Linked DNA regions of Homo sapiens. The protein of the gene in region 1 purifies or fractionates together with the protein of each later gene. This does not show direct contact. Each region holds a gene or a part of one and is shown on either strand. Other genes may lie near its edges. The genes, in order: TOM1L2, AGL, LDAF1, TMEM171 and CORO2B.

Region 1 (3,812 bases):
CTGGAGCCAGAATGCTGCATTCAGACTATAGCTCCCTCACTGCTAGCTGTGTGACCTTAGGTAGGTTCCATACTTTCTCATTGTCTTAATGTCCCCATCTGAAAATGGAGATAATCACAGTACCTTCCTCACAGCATTGTTGTGAGGATCGAATGACTGCAAGATGTATAAAGTGCCCACTTCAGTCTCTGGCACATAGGAATACAACATTAAACTTTTTTTAAAACCCCAAAAACGGGGCCGGGCATGGTGGCTCACACCTGTAATCCCAGCACTTTGGGTGGCCAAGGTGGGTGGATCATCTGAGGTCAGGAGTTTGAGACCAACGTGGTCAACATGGTGAAACCCTGTCTCTACTAACAATACAAAAATTAGCCGGGCATGATGGTGGGCACCTGTAATCCCAGCTACTTGGGAGGCTGAGACAGGAGAATCCCTTAAACCCAGGAGGTGGAGGTTGCAGTGAGCTGAGATCGCGCCACTGCACTCCACCCTGGGCAACAGAGCAAGACTCCATCTGGAAAACAAAGAAACAAAAAAACAAACAAAAAACCCAAAAGCCTTTAGCTATTATTATTACCACCTGAGGTCACCCCTCCCCTCCTACATTTCCTTACTGCATTTATCTATCCAATCTTGCAACTACTTTCTATCTGATCTAATTTAGATACCTACACACTGGGAAATTCTCAGCTTGCTATATACAGATAGTACAGGGCCACTGAATAAATAAATGAACAAATTCTAAATAATCACTCTTTTAGCCTGTCCACAAGAAAACCTACATTTAATGTTTGAAGAAAGATAAAGAAAAGATTAAAGAAACAGAACTTCAAAGCAAGAACTACAGTTCTCGAAGTGAACCAGTAGCATCAGCATCACTAGAGAACTTGACAGAAATGTAGAATGCTACTTCCCACCCCAAACCTACTGAAACAGAAACTCTGAGGGTAGGATCCACTTTTAACAAGCCCTCCAGGTGATTCCCTTGCGGCTGAATCATGAGCTCAGAGTGCAAAAAGTAACATAAATGGCAGCACAGAATGAGCACTGGATCAGGAGTAGATTCTAGGCTTCACTCTGCCATTGACCTTGCACAAGTCTCTTAACTTCTCAGAGCCTCGATTTCCTTATGTGATACAGGGATGATAACACCCAAATAGTTAAATGTTGTGAGGGTTAAATGAGATTCTATGTACAGAGTTTGCATATAGTTGGTACTTAATAATTATAAGTTCCTTCCAGTTATCTTCCTGTATATCTCACAAGGTTGTGAACACTAAATAAAATGACTGAAGCAAAAGGGCTTTGCAAATTCCTGCCCTTGAACATCAGACTCCAAGTTCTTCAGCTTTGGGACTCAGACTGGCTTCCTTGCTTCTCAGCTTGCAGATGGCCTACTGTGGGACCTCATCTTGTGATTGTGTGAGTCAGTACTCCTTAATAAACTCCCCTTAATATAAACATCTACCCTATTAGTTGTGTCCCTCTAGAGAACCCTAATACACATAGCAATCTGAGGGACAACTAACTATTCTTGGTACAAATAGCCAGGTTAAACGTCTACCATTCACAGGATATTATGAAGTAGTTTATGTCCAACACCAGTCAGTCTACAAACAAACTCTGCAACAGAATATCTGCTTCTTGCCTGTTTATTAAAGCAGAACAATGAAGAGAATACATGCCCACCACCCCCAATATTCTGGTCAGAATTAACTAACTACTCACTGATCTTTGAATCTAAACTTTACTCTTGGAAAAGGATTTTCTGAAAACTTTTTCTAGCCAACACAAGGAAAACTGCAAACTGCTGCAGACACAATGGACCTGACTTGGGGAACTCCCCATGTATGTCATCCAACTCCAAGCAGTTGTGGAAGGCTGAGATTAAGACAGTTAACATTTTGAAGCTTGTTGCAGAACAGAAAATTAAGAAATACAAGTAAGTACTCTTTCTTCCACCACACTTCTTAGCCTCGCACACCATGGCTAGGCTTTCTCTCTCTTTTTTTTCTTTTTTGGAGATGCAGTCTCGCTCTGTCATTCAGGCTGGAGTGCAAATGGCACGATCTCGGCTCACTGCAACCTCCACCTCCCAGGTTCAAGGGATTCTTCCGCCTCAGCCTCCCGAGTAGCTGGGATTATACGCGCGTGCCACCATGCCCAGCTAATTTTTGTATTTTTAGTAGAGATGGGGTTTTGCCACATTAACCAGGCTGGTCTTGAACTCCTAACCTCAGGTGATCCACCCGCCACGGCCTCCCAAAGTGCTGGATTACAGGTGTGAGCCACCGCACCTGTCCAGCTTACTCTCTCCCTAAACCATGCTTTCTACTCAGGAACTGCCCTCCAGAATAAAGGGCGGGATGGATGCAAGAAATGCACAGTTAACTATGTCAGACTGTGGTCTTAGCCGCTAACTTGAGATGAACACGCTAAGTGTTCTACTAAATCGTACCAGGTTAGAATGTTCACATGAGGCCCACGCATAAGACAGAGTAAGAATTACTCCACCAACCGCTCAGACAGACCCAGGACACCTTTTGTGAGCATGTTACCTCTACCGAAGGCTCCCTAAGAGCAGCTTGTTAATATTTGTATCCCCAGAGCCTGGCACAGGCCTGGCCCCCCACAGGCACTCATAACTGCCTACTGAAGTGAACAGACAAAATTATTTAGGTGTAAGCCCCATGCAGCTGTTGAGAAGTATTATTTTATAAGCAGGGAAAATTAGGTCCAAAGAGACTAAAAGTTGAAGTCAGTTAAAGAACGTAGTCTTTGGGCCGGGCGCAATGGCTCACTCCTATAATCCTAGCACTTTGGGAGGCCAAGGAGGGTGGATCACGAGGTCAGGAGTTCAAGACCAGCCTGGCCAAGGTAGTGAAACCTTGTCTCTACTAAAAATACAAAAATTAGCCCGGCACGGTGCCAGGCACCAGTAATCCCAGCTACTTGGGAGGCTGAGACAGGAGAATCGCTTGAACTTGTGGGGCGGAGGTTGCAGTGAGCTTAGATCGTGCCACTGCACTCCAGCCTGGGTGATGAAGTGAGACTCCATCTCAAAAAAAAAAAAAAAAAGAATGTAGTCTTTGATGCCACCCATCCAGAGCAGGGCTTCCTCCTGTGCCCAAACCCTACTTGCCACCACTCCCCACAGCCACCTCTGCTCCATTCAGACTGGTACTCACAGATGTGCCTGTGCCCCACTCCCTGCCTCATTCAGCTGTCCCTAGGCCCAATGATATTGTTTTCTGCATGCAGAGTTCCTACCCATCCTTTATGAACAGCCCTCAGACTCAAAGAAGCCAGTCCCTGTCACCCCAGCCTCTTCTGAATTGTTTCTGACTCCTTCAGCACTTACAATCTACACCACTCATTGTTTCATGCATCTCTGTCTTCTCTCCTGAAACCGTAAATCCATTGAGGACAGGGATCAGAGAGGGACCAGCTCTCCTTTTTTTTTTTTTTTTGGAGACAGAGTCTCACTCTGTCGCCCAGGCTGGAGCGCGGTGGCACAATCTTGGCTCACTGCAACCTCTGCCTCCCAGGTTCAAGCGATTCTCCTGTCTCAGCCTCCTGAATAGCTGGGATTACAGGCGCCCACCACCACACCCGGCTCATTTTTGTATTACTAGTAGAGACAGGGTTTCACCATATTGGTCAGGCTGGCCTCCAACTCCTGACCTCAAGTGATCCACCACCTTGGCCTCCCAAAGTGCTGGGATTACAGGCATGAGCCACCACAACCAGCCTACAGCTGCTGTTTTTAATCATTAGCTTTGTAGTTGTTATTTTATTTCTGTATTCCC
Region 2 (3,812 bases), on another chromosome or scaffold:
TTACCTTTCCTACCTCCCTGAATATCAAAGTTAGGGTACAGCAACAAAACTACATAAACCTTTGATAAACTAATGGTTCTCTCAAGGACAGTCATTCCTTTTACCCGCACAGTTTAGAGAAGGGTATATATTGAACAAGGAAGGAACTGAAGAAGAAAGGGAGATTTGGAAACCAATGTCCAATGTATTTATAGATAGTGGTCAGATTACTGTCACAACTGTCCTTAAATTTGTAGGATTTAATCTATTTTAGTTTTGGAAACCAGAAAACTAAGCTAGTTAAAACTATTTCTAAAGCAAGGTCAGCTTTGAAGAAGAGCAGGCAGATAATCTTAAAGTAAATTACACGAGCTTTCAAGCATGGGTATTTGACATCTGAAGCATTTATATATTTTTGCTGCCCAGAAGTTTTAGTTTGCTGGTTTTCTTCTTTAATTTCTTAGTCATAGTTAAGGTTTTGGGTATGTAACCTGTAAACTAACTAAAAAAATGCTACTTTGAAAGTAGCATTATTTTAAAATACCATTATTTTATTAGGTATAAATGAGCCACTGAATATTATATAGCAATGAAAGAATTCTTGCCACTACTTTCTTCCAACTGAATGCATAATGATTTAACTGTTTTCTTAAGAAAACAGTAAAAAACAGTAAAAAATTCTATCTAGGAAATAAGTTCTATGAAAAAATGTTAACTCATGTAAATGTTAAAAACCTTTTTCCTTTTGTGACTTTAAGATTTTTAAGGCATCTTAAAATAAGTTATCATGAAAAACTTCCAGTGATTTTATTGAATTTAAGATATCTACTGAATTCATATCCATATTTTTGTTAAGATTCTTCTCAATGTTAAACTTGTCAATGTAGGTTTTGAGTTAATAGAAAACCAGTATCTACTATGATCTAGCAATAGATTTTTGAACATGACTAAAGATAGTTGAGTTTTAGAAAACTAATATAACATTCTTTTTTCTTTAAAGTTCTAGAAATATGACCGACAATTTCCATTTTGAAAATGTAAGCTATCTTATAATACTCAATAGAACTCAATACTAATTTTACAAAACTGTTTTTAGGAAATAAATTTCCTAATGCTTTGCATGTTTCCTCACATAAGTAAATCATATAAAATATACTGTTGGCATTCATTACACAAAAATTAATATATCAGTGAAAAAATGAAAGCATAGTTTGAACATCTGTGCTCCATTTAGGAACATATATTGTAGATGGAAACTTCTATCATTCATCATTTATTAAATATTTATTAAATGCAGTGAGCACTGTATTAAGAATACTATAGTACGTGGTGTTAATATTAATGAACCACAGCGTATTCAGTATGTATTGTTACTGAAGATTATATATACCACAATTAAAAGCTATCTTTTCATTTCTTTCATTATTTTCATATTTTATTTTCATTTCTGTACAAATAGAAGATGACATGATTTTTCTTTTCCAAACTATGGATTTCTAGGCATTTGAATAATTCTTACTGAACTCAAACACATTTCATTGGTAATGATATTTCTTTCTGATTCAAATTGAAATCTACCTCTGTACATTAAAAAAAATCAATGCTTTTACAATCTTACCTAATTGAGCATCAATATTATAATAAATGAGATTTTTAAAACAACTTGAGCCTGTGCATATAAGGCATTTACATATGATGACCTTGCATCCTATAATACAAGTAATTGCATACTTAATATCTGTAATAAACTATAAATCATAAAGTGTCTCAAGAATAGTAGCAATTGACCAGGCTTGTGTTTCACAGCTGAAAGGACAGTACTGGGCATTCTCATTGGTCAGTTCTGGAAGTCCTTTCCAAGGGGATCTGAATGAAAGAAAAGACATTTTACAAAGACATAATTTAATTCATATTAACAAAATAGGCAAGACCTGGTGATTTTTGCCTTCTAGTGTAGAAAATAATCATATGTAGTCATTTGCTACAAAATAAAACAATATCCTAAAGACATACAAATGAATTTAGACTGAAATTATTCTTTGACATTCCATCTTTGGAATTTGAGACTTTTAAATACAAGGAATCCCTTTATGTATTAAAAACATAGAAGAAACTACCATTACAAGCTACATATAAACATAGAGATAAATACTCTCTCAGGCATAATTTTGTTTATGAGACTCAAATTGTAATTATGCAGATGTGTTATGTGTGATCTTGATAAAACTGTAAAAGTAAAAGTAATGAAGAAACACTAAGAACTATGATTAGGCGGAAAAATGGCATTCCAGAATACTTTCTACTTAAAGAAAAAAATGCCAATTAATTTCTCTTTCTACTGAATAATAAACTTGGTATTTATTATGCATTTATGTTCTAATACTGCTTTTATGTATATTATCTCATTTAATGTTCACAGTAACCCTGTAAGGAAGGTACCATAAGTATTCCTATCTATAGAGAGGTAAGAGAGATTTATAGAGGTTAAATAACTTGTTCCAGCCCTCCTTATCAGAACACAGTGATGTTAGCACATCAAATTTATTGTTAATTTCAATGTAATCCCTTAAAAATGAAAACAAATTCAAAAAGTACAGACATCTGTAATGTTTCATTTTTAAGTTGGGTTGTGGGAACATATTTGTTTCATTACTATGGTTTGTATCTCAGGGCTATATTACATACACGCTTCAGTGGGCATCAAATACTTCATAGTAAAAATGGGAAAAAATAATCCCATTAGGTAAAACAGGGTATTTTGGATAATAACTAATATCAGCTAGGTACCATATTTAAAAAACTGTCATAGAAACATGGAAAATATAGAAAATGTATGTTTCCAAGTATTCAAGCTACATCAGAGTAAAATGCCAAATGACTGAAGTTGGATACCTGGGCATCTGTAATGTGTTGAATTACATCTCCACAGAATTTGTATGTTGAAGTCCTAGCCCCGAGTACCTCAGAATGTGAACCTGTTTGGAAATCGGGTCACTGCAGATGTAATTAGTTAAGATAATGCCACATGAAGATTGGAGTTTTGCTGCCACAAGCCACAGGATTATCAGCAGCTAGGAGACAGGGCTGGAAGAGACCTTTCCCTAATGCCTTCAGAGGGAGCATGGCTCTGCCCATGCCTTGATTTTTCAGATTTCTGGCCTCCAGAACTGTGAGACAATATTCTGCTGTTTAACAATTTCTATTATTTAAGTCACTCAGTTTGTAGTGCTCTGTTACTGCAGCTCTAGCAAACTAACAGATACCAAAATTAAAAAACAAAATGAGGTTACAAAACCATGAATATGCTGCCCATAATTACACTTGGACACTAGGACATGGAATGTATCCATACAAATATAAGGAAGTCCCCTTTCCCTTGCTTTCCTGAAAAATTCATCCTGAAGTCATTAGGTGGGACAGAGCAAGGTAGGTGACCAGAAATGGAGGGGAAAGGGTAATAGGTAGTATGGAGCAGGATGTTAGAGTCCAAGAGGTATGAAGAGGGAGTCCACCAAGGGTGAGAGTGGTCCAGAGTGGGTAGTTAGAATCCAAGTGGTGCCAGGAGGGCTCCACACATAGAGGTGGCTTACTGTGGGGTAGCAGGCCCAAGCTGGGTGAGCAGACTCTATGTGGTGGTGATGGCCCAATGTGGGAAGTAGGTTATTCATTGTTGGAAAAGGGAATTACAAATATAGAAAGGGAGAAAAATAGAATTAAACACTGAGAAATAGCTTGGAACTGGTGTAAACTCAGGTTTTCAACACACATAGACAGGATACATTGAGATGAAGATAAGTGTGTATGTATTTACTTATGTTTATGTATTATTATAT
Region 3 (3,034 bases), on another chromosome or scaffold:
AGCTAGCCTCTGAGGGGCAAAACCACACTGCTTGGTTATGGAGACTGCAAGACCTTCCAGGGCCTGCAGCTCAGGAGAAGTAGGGGCCCTGGGCAGCTGTGTTTATTTGCAGAGCCACCAAACTCACTACCCCATATCATAATCTTCCAAACCAGCCTGAGCATAACTAGCTTCCTTACATCTTTACTAAGAAAAGGAAAGGCTTCTTTCTTAGTTTTTTGTTATCAGGGAGGAATGGTTTAGGTGGCAAATAATGAAAAAAACCAAAGTAGATACTAGTTTAAACACACAGGGAACTTTTTTTTATTGCTTAATGAAAAACTGGAGACAGCCCAGGGCTGGTGCAGCCAGTGTGGTATCAACATACCAGGCACCTTTTGCCTTCCTGTGTTGCTATCCTTAGCCCATTGGTTTCCTACCTTATGGCCACAAGATAGCTGCTGCAGCTCCAGATCTACCAGCTACCTTCAAGGCAGCAGAAAAGGAGAAAAAAATGGAGTCTGACCCTTTTAAAAATGTGAATAAAATATTTCCCAGGACCTCTCACCACTATACTTCAAAAGACTTCATTGACTAGAACTTTGTCAGATGGCCGCTGGTTGCTGTTCTCCTGATTGTAGGTCTCACGAGATCTGATGGTTTTATAAAGGGCATTTCCCCTGCACATGCTCTCTTGCCTGCCGCCATGTAAGAAGTGCCTCTGATCTTCCTTTGCCTTCCACCATGATTGTGAGGCCTCCCCAGCCATGTGGAATTGTGAGTCCATGAAACCTCTTTTTCTTTATAAATTACCCAGTCTCAGGTCTTTATTAGCAACATAAGAACGGACTAATACAATCCTCCCCCGAACTCCTTTCCATGGAAGGTGTCAAGAAACTAATTGAAATCAGAAGATATGGTCTGAATCCCCGCCCTGCCATGTTTTCAGCTGTGTGGTCTTGAACGGGCTGCTTGACTTCTCTGATTTCAGTTTTTGTCCATTGGTAAAATAGACAAAATGGCTACTCTTAATCTACCATTCTCACTGGGTTGTTGTGAGGACACAGATAATTAAGAAAAACATAATAAATATCCAAATTAGAAAATGGAAAAGGGGCCGTAACCCTACTCCTAACCTGGTCATTTTAACCTCCTGTGCCCTCAGTTTCTTCATCTGTATAATGGACATAGGCCTGGTGTGGTTGCAAGAAGCAGCTAAAAATCAGGAAAAAGAACATCATGTATTCAGCTATGCACACTTCCAACGTTGCTCTTTACTGAGGCCCTAGAGCTAACGATCTCTTCTTGTTATCCGACAGGCCACTGACACAGCAAAACACCAGTTGTGACTTTCTGCCAGCCATGAAGTCTGCAGAATTCGAGGGGCTTTACCAGGAATGAGTGACTGCTCAGAGGCCGGGCTTCTTTTCAAGTACTGCTGGATCATACTCACCCCTTGGGATTATGGCTTAGAAGAAGGGGGCTGGGTAGGCAAGCACTCCTTGGCTGTGTCCTCTCGCTTTTTCACTTACTTGTAGGATCCCGCAGCAGCCAATTTAGGGATTGTGTTGTTCTTGTGTTGGTTCCCATGTAAAGAAGCAGCAGAGAAATGCGATGGTTCAACAGCTCGCCCTGCCCCAAGTATGCAGACTTGACCTTGGCGGGGTCCTGGGCTTCTAGAGTCTAGCCCGTTGACCCCAAAGCCTCAGGGCTTATGTCCAACGGTCCCATTGGGAGCAACAGTGATTGTTTATAGTTTTTTGTTTTCAGAAATGAGGGCAGCTGTTAATTTTTTCACTCATGTGAAACAAAATGAAAAAAAAAATCCAAAACAGAACAAGCCCTTCTGTGGTATTTGCTTTTTATCAGAAAGAACAGCAACATTTGGCCTCTCCAAGTTGGAAAATAGAGTCCAAATGTAACTTTGTGGCCAAGAGTATTTTCAAAAAAGTCTAAAGGTGTAGTTTCCACTGTAACTGTTGAGTACTGTTAAGTACTGTTAATCTTTTACATATTTGCACTTGGTACTGTTGTATTGTTCTAAAGAGCTTGTCCTTTAAGTAATTTCTTTCTTTTTTTTTTTTTTTTTTTTTTGTGACGGAGTTTCCCTCTTGTTGCCCAGGCTGGAGTGCAATGGTGCAGTCTCGGCTCACTGCAACCTCCAACTCCCAGGTTCAAGTGAGTCTCGTGCCTCAGCCTCCCAAGTAGCTGGGATTACAGGCACCCGCCACCGTGCCCGGCTAGTTTTTTTTTGTATTTTTTTTAGTACAGATGGGGTTTCACCATGTTGGTCAGGCTAGTCTCAAACTCCTGACCTCAGGTGCTCCACCTGCCTTGGCCTCCCAAAGTGCTGGGATTACAGGCGTGAGCCACTGTGCCCAGCCTAAGCCATTTCTTAAAATAAAAATGCTAAAGGACTAGTAAGTAAAAATAAAACTTCCTATGGGATTTCCCAGTGGAATTACTGAGTGGTTTATTTGCGTGGCATTTCATTAAATATTTATTTGGGTGGGCTTTTTTTCTTTACTCTTTTTCCCTTCTGCTCCATACATCAGACCTGCCTATTCCTCTGTCGATTTCATGACTGGTGCTGGGTAATAGGGATTTTTTTAGTTGCTCGCAATAGACACCCAATTCCACATTACTTTAAAAAGAGGGGTGGTAGGGAGAAGGATTAGTTTCACTCAACCAAAAAGCCAAGGGGTAGATCTTGAGGTGCTGCTGATTCCAGGGGCTCAGGTGGTGTCATTAAGCATCTCTCACCCCTCATCTCTCAGTATAGCTTTCCTCAGTGTGAGCTGCTTTTGCAGGCAGGCCCGCCACCCCTTTCGGAGGTCCCAGGAGCTCCATCCTGGGCAAGAAAACTGCTTTTTTCCAACAGTATATACAAATATTCTGGGTTTGGCTCTGATTGGATAGACTTGGGTCATGTGAGCGACCCCAGACCAATCATGGTGGCTAGGAGGATGGGATATGCAGATGGGACAGGGCTGGGATGGTGGCCATTCAAGAAACAGGGGAGGCGATAGATCAGCCCACTATTAATATAACTATT
Region 4 (3,812 bases), on another chromosome or scaffold:
TAGTTTCAGCCCCTGAGCAAATGACAGTAAGCCATATTACAGCCCCTAACTGTTATTTACCAAAATTTCACCCATACAGATGAAGGTTGAACCCAAAGAAGTTTGGTTTTTGCATTTCTGTGGCTACTGTTCACTCCAGAATACATCCTCATGTTTTGAGGAGAAACTAGGGACCAGATGCAAACTCTAATTTGTATTCCGATTCCAATATAAAATGCACCACACAAGTGGACCAGAACAGTGTAGAGCTCTGGCAGCACCACTGCTGGGGGCCTGGTGAAAGCCTCTGAGAAGCTGGCAATAGCAATAACAGTTCAGAAAAAATGAAGAAGATGGGGCTTTACTTCCCTGTAGTGGTTCACACTCCTAGCATGTCTGATGCTTGCTTAGGGTGGCATAGGATTCTTTAAAGTGATGGGGGTTCCAACCTGAACAAGCTAGGCGACCTCCTTGACCTCAGCCGCCACAGCTGTAAACTGCAGGCCAGGCAGTTCTTGCATCACAGGACAGATAGAAGGAAGGACTAGATGGACTGATTTGCATCTGGCAGTGAACACAGTGCGGAGCACAGAGCCAACTCTCTCAGCTCAACACCAGCCGAGGGCACTGATTTGCATGATGAAGAAACACCACAGAGGCAATTGGCCACTGGCTCCACTCTCTACCCTTCATGAGCCACAGCAGCCTCAATCATTTCCCAGAGGGAATTTAGCCCTTCAGAAAATGCATTAATTCCATCTCCCCTTCCTTCTCCAAGGAGAAGGCAATGAGAGTTTAAAATACGTTTTGCTAATCTAAAGGTGAGAAAGCATAATAGCGGTCCTGAGATTCTCATTTACTTTTTTAGAAGGTCTTGGTAGGTTAGAGGAATTGGGGTTGTGTTCACTTCCATTACACACTGTAGAATAAAGAACCTGTGAAGTAACCCTTGAGGGCAGGCCAATCACCTCTCAAAAACACACAAGGATATGCTCCAGTAACCCTGTTACCTCCAAGGGTCTCCAGCCCTTTGGCCCAGCAGCTCCGCCTGCCCACACCCTGCAACCTGCTCTCCCTGGAAAGAGGCCTCTCCTCTGCGAGTTCCCTTTCATGCGTCTTTCAGAACTTGATGTCCTCTGTGAGCAGACAACATATACACCCCTCCAAGGAGAGCTGTCTCATATACCTGCTGTGTATCCAGGATAGCACTGAGTGTACCCACAACAAGGAGAGCATGCTTCTTGGATTCTAAAAATGTAAACCCTATTCCACAATATCAAAGGAGAGGAATTAGGATGCAAGATTTTCATAGGTTTGATGGGGACTTAAAGAGTTAAGTAGAAAAGATTTTAAACCATGCAGTGCCAACTTCAGGACAAGGACACCAGGAGCAGCACCACAGCTCTGTCCACTCTGATTCCAGCTACCAGGTGGAAGGCTGGGCCCCAAAACTCCCCTCGAACCGTTCCCAACTAGATGAAAGCATAGCAGCGTTGGATGAACATATTTACTTGTACCCCACGGTGTTCCTCAAGAACACTAAGAACATCTATCAAATTAAAGGGAGCCCCTTTTTTCATGTAATAACTTCCAGGAACACTTGGTGAAGGATAAAATGGAATCACACCCACGTGCCCTGGGCAGGGTGCTATGCAAGGGCTATTCTGTGGGTGTGCCCAGACACTTGGGTTGGAACCTTGCTCTACCACTTGCTAGGGTGTGACCTTAGGCAAGTCACTTGATATCTACATGCCTCATCTTCTTCCTGTGTAACATGGAGGTACTAACGTTATCTGCCCCCTTGGATTGCTGTAGGTGTGAATGAATTTCACACAGGGGACCTTTAAGAGCACATGATAAAGCACTTAAATGGGTGTTTGGCACAAAAATAGACCCTATATAAGTGTTAGCTATTGTGAATATATAACTAATATTTGTGTTGTCACCATAAATATATTAATGCATAAATATATTAATAAATAAGCTGGGAGCATCTACCCTGGCTCTACACAAGGAATGGCTGCAGATCCATCTGCCCCTCCTCTCCAAGGCTGGTGCCATGCAAGTCCAGCAACCCAGTTCCTCCCCTCCAGGCTGCAGTCAGTGAATTCCACTGCTTCCAGTAGACAGCCCCAAACAGGAGATGCATCTCACTTGTCACATTCCCTCTCTGTCCTCTCCATGGTTTCTGTTCTGAAGATCTCTTTTCCTAGCCTTTTAAATGTCAGTGGTTTCACAACTTTACTCTTTCAAAAGTAGGAGACTGAAAAAAAGTGATCTGCCAATGAACAGCGATGGGGTTTTTCCTTGGTTGTGTGAAGCTGAGGCCAACGCTACTGCTATTGTTCTGAGGGGGCAGGCTCTGGGAAATGGCACTCCATCTCTTCTGTAGAACCCGGGGGACCCAAAAGGAACTTGTAGGCATTCCACGGGAGAAAGGTGCTGTCATATTCCATCTTGGTTCATCCCGCTGCTTCCAAGCTTTGCCTCAGCCCTGCAGCCACGGATGATGTCACAAAAAAAGAAGGACAACACAGAGACAGTGCAGAGGCCCCTCAAAACACCTGGAGACTGCTGGACTCAGACAGATCCAGAATCCTAGAATGTTAGTGCTGCAGGAATCTTAGAGAGGCACTGCTCATTTTATAGAGACATAAACCAAGGCAGGAGAGGTTAAGGACTTACAAGGACAGCCAGCTAGTGACAGCCTGGGAGGAGAAACCAAGTGTCCCACAACTAAAATGCTATGTGGTTTTGGTGTGAGAATAACAGGGGTAACAGGGTCACTTAGTGAGTCCCTAAGGTGGCAGAAGGCTCCAAGGCTGTCCTCATGGTTCTTCTCACTTTCCTCTTAATTTGCTCTGTGACCTCAGTCAAGGTCACTACTTAATATCCCAATGCTTTGCAAAGTAGGAAAGAGTTGCTGGGGGGGAAAAGATGTATACAAGGTTCCTACGGGGCTTCCCACAGCAGCACCATTGTGTATGTACACATGATGGGGGTGTGTGCGTGTGCACACACATGTGTGAGAGATGGAAGAATTGAGAAAGAGAATCCAGACGAGAACCAAGAGCAGCTGGTGAAACCCTGCTGCAAAGCCACTGTGATAGAAGCAAGAACGCAAATAACAGCAACCCACCTACAGTGACCTGGACAGGCTCCATAATCTGGATCTGTCCCTCTTCTCTCTCAGAGGCATCCTGGCCAGCATTCAGCGTGTTTCTCTTCTTAACATGGGCAACCACGAAGAAACACAATCCCACAAGCACAATCAAGGGCCCCATGATCTGCAGAGAAAGGAACCCACACATCCGGGGCTCTGAGTCGCCAGTGTCTGTCTCGTTTAGCGGTTCCTGCGCCCAGTTGGAGCCACATCCAGGGACCCAAATGCCCAGGACGCTGATGAGCATGCCGCTTGTCAAGAACAGAAACCCAAAGATAAGGCACTGGGCAAACTGGCGGCTCTCTCCACAGATGAAGGCTCGGTCGGGGTCCATCTGCTGACCTCTCTGCAGCCCTGCACGGAGCTGAAGTTGCGCCCGGGAGCGGGCCAGGATCACAGCCCCAAGCCCAACCACGGCACATGCAGGCCCCGCCACCTTGAGCACCATGGGGCAGTCTGGGAGGGGCTTATATTGGCATGCCTGGAACCCAAAGATGGAGAGCAGGACTCCCACACACAACAAGACGGCGCCGAAGACAAAGAAGCAGAAGATGAGTTTGCTGACGTGTCTGTCCTGCTGGTCCCCATCTGGCTCAGCAGCAGCTGCAGGAGACATGTCCAGGAGAGGCCCCTTCCCGGAGGCAGGGTGGGATGTGTTTTCTTCCCTCCA
Region 5 (3,469 bases), on another chromosome or scaffold:
GGACCTACCAATTAGAGCTGCTATGAAGATCAAATGAGTCAAGTGTGTGGAATCCTGCCTGATAAACTTCAAGGCACCGTTCCAATGTAGAGCGTTGGTCTCACCCAGACCCCAACACGGGGCAGCATCTATTGAATAGCGGTAGAACAGTGGTTCTTAACCGGGAGGTGATTCTGACACCCCAGGGGACATTGGGCAATATCTGGGGACATTTTTGGTTGTCCCAATTGGATGAGGGTTGCTATGGCATCTGATTGGTGGAGCCAGGGATACTGCTAAATATCTTACAATGTACAGGGCAGCCCCCACAGCAAAGAATTATTCGCCCCAAATGTCAATAGTGCTGAGATAAATGAAGGTGTGAAATTATATCTGTAGGTACAGACGTGGGTTGTCATTCCAGAAAGGCAAAGGAGCTGTGGGTGGGGAGCTGACCATCAAGGTACCATGGTGACCAAGAACAGGAACCACTGGGGTTAAATGAGATGGCTATGCCCAGGTTTGATAAGTTGAAAACATTTTATTTCAATTCTATCCTTGGGAGGCAGCATAAATAATCACAGAAGACCACAAAGGTCAATGGGGAAGGAAAAAAAAAAGCTCCAGAAATGTGGGAGGAGGAGATGAGTGCTGACACTGTCTAGCTGTGGGGTACGGGGTGAGGAGGCCCTACTGTAGCTGGCTGGGAGGATGGAGGTTCATAAAGGAAAGGCCCAGCTCACCTGGAGGGGCTTGGGTAGCCCTGGCCTCTGTGGATGGGATTTTCCGTAGGGCGGCCATGGGAAAAGCAGGTATGGAGTATAATGCATCTAGTAGATCCTAGCTAATGAAAGAAAAGAGTGGACACCCATTTCTTGATTTCCAGATCTCACCCCAAACTGTGACTCTTCTGAGAACAGTGTTTATAAACTCTTTGTGCGTAGTGGGAAATGAAAGGAGGAAAAAAGAAGGAATAAAAGAAAATGTGTACAAGATCAAATGAAATGTGGCATCTCAGAGTTGCGTGACCTTGGGCCACTTCTCTCGGTTTCCTCATCTGCAGAAGGGAGTAGACGTGAGGCTCCATGAGATCCTATGTGTCAAAGGACTGCAGAAACTTTAAAGTGCTATACGGATGCGAGTGGCTGTGGTCATTCTACGTGCATAAGGCTGAAAGTGGCTGAGATAGCGGTGCTGAGACACACGCAGAGCATCCCTAGAAGCCATCAGACCCTGGTCTGCCTTCCCCAGGGCCAAGCTCCACCCTTCTCAGCCTCAGCTTCCAGGAGGACGAGGCCTCATCTCAGATGGAGTCCCCTGGGGAGGGTGGTGGTGACAGCTGAGGGTGGGGACCTGAAGGATCTAGGGGCACAGAGCGTGAGGGGCCTCAACTGGGCAGTGTGGCACATCGGCACTACTGGTGCTGGGTAGACGGTAGCAGTGGCTTCCAGTTCTCATTCTCCATAGAGACTTGGGCACTGGTGAAGCCCACAAAGGGATTGGCATCTTGATGCAGCGGGAAAGGCCCTGGCCTTGGGGTCTGAACACCCAGGGTCTTGGTCGTGGGCCCATTGTTGACCTGCTGGGTGACTTTATAAGTCATTTCCCCATTGCAACCCTCAGTTCTGTCATTTGTCAAAGGGGGACACTAATCCCTACCCTGCCTGGCTCACAAATTGAATGGGAAAAGGGTGTGCAAGAGCTTTGTAGAGAATCATGGGGAAGGCAAGGGGTCATTATGGCCTTGGAGAGCAATCCTCTGAATTCCCTGAAGACAAGAGGGTGGGAAGGGAAGAGACAGAAAGGAGCCGGGCCGCTCGCTGTCCTCGTCGGGTGAGGCAGGCTTCCGGGGCTGCTGAGGGAAGAGGGGGTGGGACGAAAGAGGGATCACTGCAGCCTGCAGTCCAGCACTTACACTGTGGTACCTTCAGTGATGCTGAGAGCTCCAGGCGGGAGTGCTGAGATGTCCTGGCAGCCCCCTTCACAGGGGAAAAGTCCAAGTTCTAAGTCTAGCTGGGATCCCGCTTCCCCTCTTGCTTCCTGGTCCACTGAGATGGAGCCCCTGCCAACCCCAGGGAGTCTGTAGTCTTCACCCAGCTGAGGGGAAGCCTGGCTCCTGGGGTGGCAGGGAAAGGGGCTGCCGGCAGGGGGTCTCCAGAAGCTGGGGACTTTTATTAGCATGAGGTCAGGAGGTTAGAGGTTGGCTTCCAGTTCTCGAGGTGGTAGGCGGGGGTCCTCAGGCTGGCCCCCACTCCTGTCCTGGCTCTGTCTCTGGGGTCACTGGTAAGGGAGAAGTTAAGGGATGAGTAGAAACGACGGAGAGATCGGCTTAGAAAACAGCCCAGCTGGGGAGCTAACAGTTCTTGGGGCTGTTGCGCAAGTTTTTCAGTTCCAGCTGGAGCTGCCGAATGCGGATGTCCTTCTGGGCCAGCTCCTCTTTCAACCGTCGAATCTCATCCTGCTGCCGGAAGAACATTCGAAGGAGCTGGGGTGGAGGAAGAGAGGGGGCCAAGGAGGGCCCAGGAGAGAGCAGGTGAGACAAGGATTTCCCAGGTGAGTCTCCAGCTGCCTGCCGCCCGTGCCCTCACATTCCCCCAGGCCTCCCACTGCTTGATACATTTATTCTCCCCAGGTGCATTTATTGCACCTCTCCCATCTCTAGCTCAGCCCATGGCTCTTACTTTCCCTTGTGAGGTAGGAAACAAAACCTGCGTCATTAATTGATTCAGGATCACTGAAAAAGGAGTGACCAAACAGTCCAGTTTTCCAAATATCCCAAGCTTGTCCCTTTTTGGGTCCTAACTTAATGCTTTTCTTTACCATTGTATTAATAGATGTATTATTACATCTATAATAATACATAATAATAGATGTATAATAATACATAATAGATGTATTATTACATGTATTACATATATTATTACATTATTATTGCTAATTTATGTATTTATTTATTTTTGAGACAAAGTCTCGCTTTGTCGCCCAGGCTGTAGTGCGGTGGCATGATTTCGGCTCACTGCAACCTCTGTCTCCTGGGTTCAAACAATTCTCCTGCCTCAGCCTCCCGAGTAGCTGGGATTACAGGCATGTGCCACCATGCCTGGATAATTTTTGTATTTTTAGTAGAGACTGGGTTTCACCATGTTGGCCAGGCTGGTCTCGAACTCCTGACCTCAAGAGATCCACCCACCTCAGCCTCCCAAAGTGCTGGGATTACAGGTGTAAGCTACCATGCCCGGCTTGTGCTGATAATTTAGAACTTTCTAAAATGCTTTGTATCCTTCTCTTCTTAAGGAGGCTCAGGATACAGAATGGAATCTAGCTTTTTCCCTACTGATGAGGAACTATGACAAGAATACCAAAGTTTGCACTGGTCAGGGATTCATGTACAGCTATCCTGGCAGATCTTCACCCCAATGACTCTCTAGCTTAACCCGCCTCCATTTCTCCTGTAAAGCATATTGACAGATGTCCACAAAACGCCGAGCCC

The links.
Region 2: the proteins of TOM1L2 (region 1) and AGL fractionate together in Homo sapiens (co-fractionation; one large-scale study listed by BioGRID). This does not show direct contact.
Region 3: the proteins of TOM1L2 (region 1) and LDAF1 purify together in Homo sapiens (co-immunoprecipitation; one large-scale study listed by IntAct). This does not show direct contact.
Region 4: the proteins of TOM1L2 (region 1) and TMEM171 purify together in Homo sapiens (co-immunoprecipitation; one large-scale study listed by IntAct). This does not show direct contact.
Region 5: the proteins of TOM1L2 (region 1) and CORO2B purify together in Homo sapiens (co-immunoprecipitation; one large-scale study listed by IntAct). This does not show direct contact.

Annotation. Positions count from the first base shown.
Region 1 is NC_000017.11:17,965,601-17,969,412, forward strand, and holds part of TOM1L2 (TOM1-like protein 2), read right to left. Parts: intron 1-3,812. UniProt on the Homo sapiens protein: Acts as a MYO6/Myosin VI adapter protein that targets myosin VI to endocytic structures. May also play a role in recruiting clathrin to endosomes. May regulate growth factor-induced mitogenic signaling.
Region 2 is NC_000001.11:99,919,567-99,923,378, reverse strand, and holds part of AGL (glycogen debranching enzyme), read right to left. Parts: intron 1,846-3,812; coding exon 1,728-1,845; 3' UTR 1-1,727. UniProt on the Homo sapiens protein: Multifunctional enzyme acting as 1,4-alpha-D-glucan:1,4-alpha-D-glucan 4-alpha-D-glycosyltransferase and amylo-1,6-glucosidase in glycogen degradation.
Region 3 is NC_000016.10:21,178,177-21,181,210, forward strand, and holds the end of LDAF1 (lipid droplet assembly factor 1), read left to right. Parts: exon of another isoform or gene 1-620; coding exon of another isoform or gene 621-636; exon of another isoform or gene 637-756; intron 757-1,298; coding exon 1,299-1,380; 3' UTR 1,381-2,440; downstream 2,441-3,034. UniProt on the Homo sapiens protein: Plays an important role in the formation of lipid droplets (LD) which are storage organelles at the center of lipid and energy homeostasis. In association with BSCL2/seipin, defines the sites of LD formation in the endoplasmic reticulum.
Region 4 is NC_000005.10:73,123,320-73,127,131, reverse strand, and holds part of TMEM171 (transmembrane protein 171), read right to left. Parts: 5' UTR 3,759-3,812; coding exon 3,119-3,758; intron 1-3,118.
Region 5 is NC_000015.10:68,724,838-68,728,306, reverse strand, and holds the end of CORO2B (coronin-2B), read right to left. Parts: intron 2,465-3,469; coding exon 2,333-2,464; 3' UTR 501-2,332; downstream 1-500. UniProt on the Homo sapiens protein: May play a role in the reorganization of neuronal actin structure.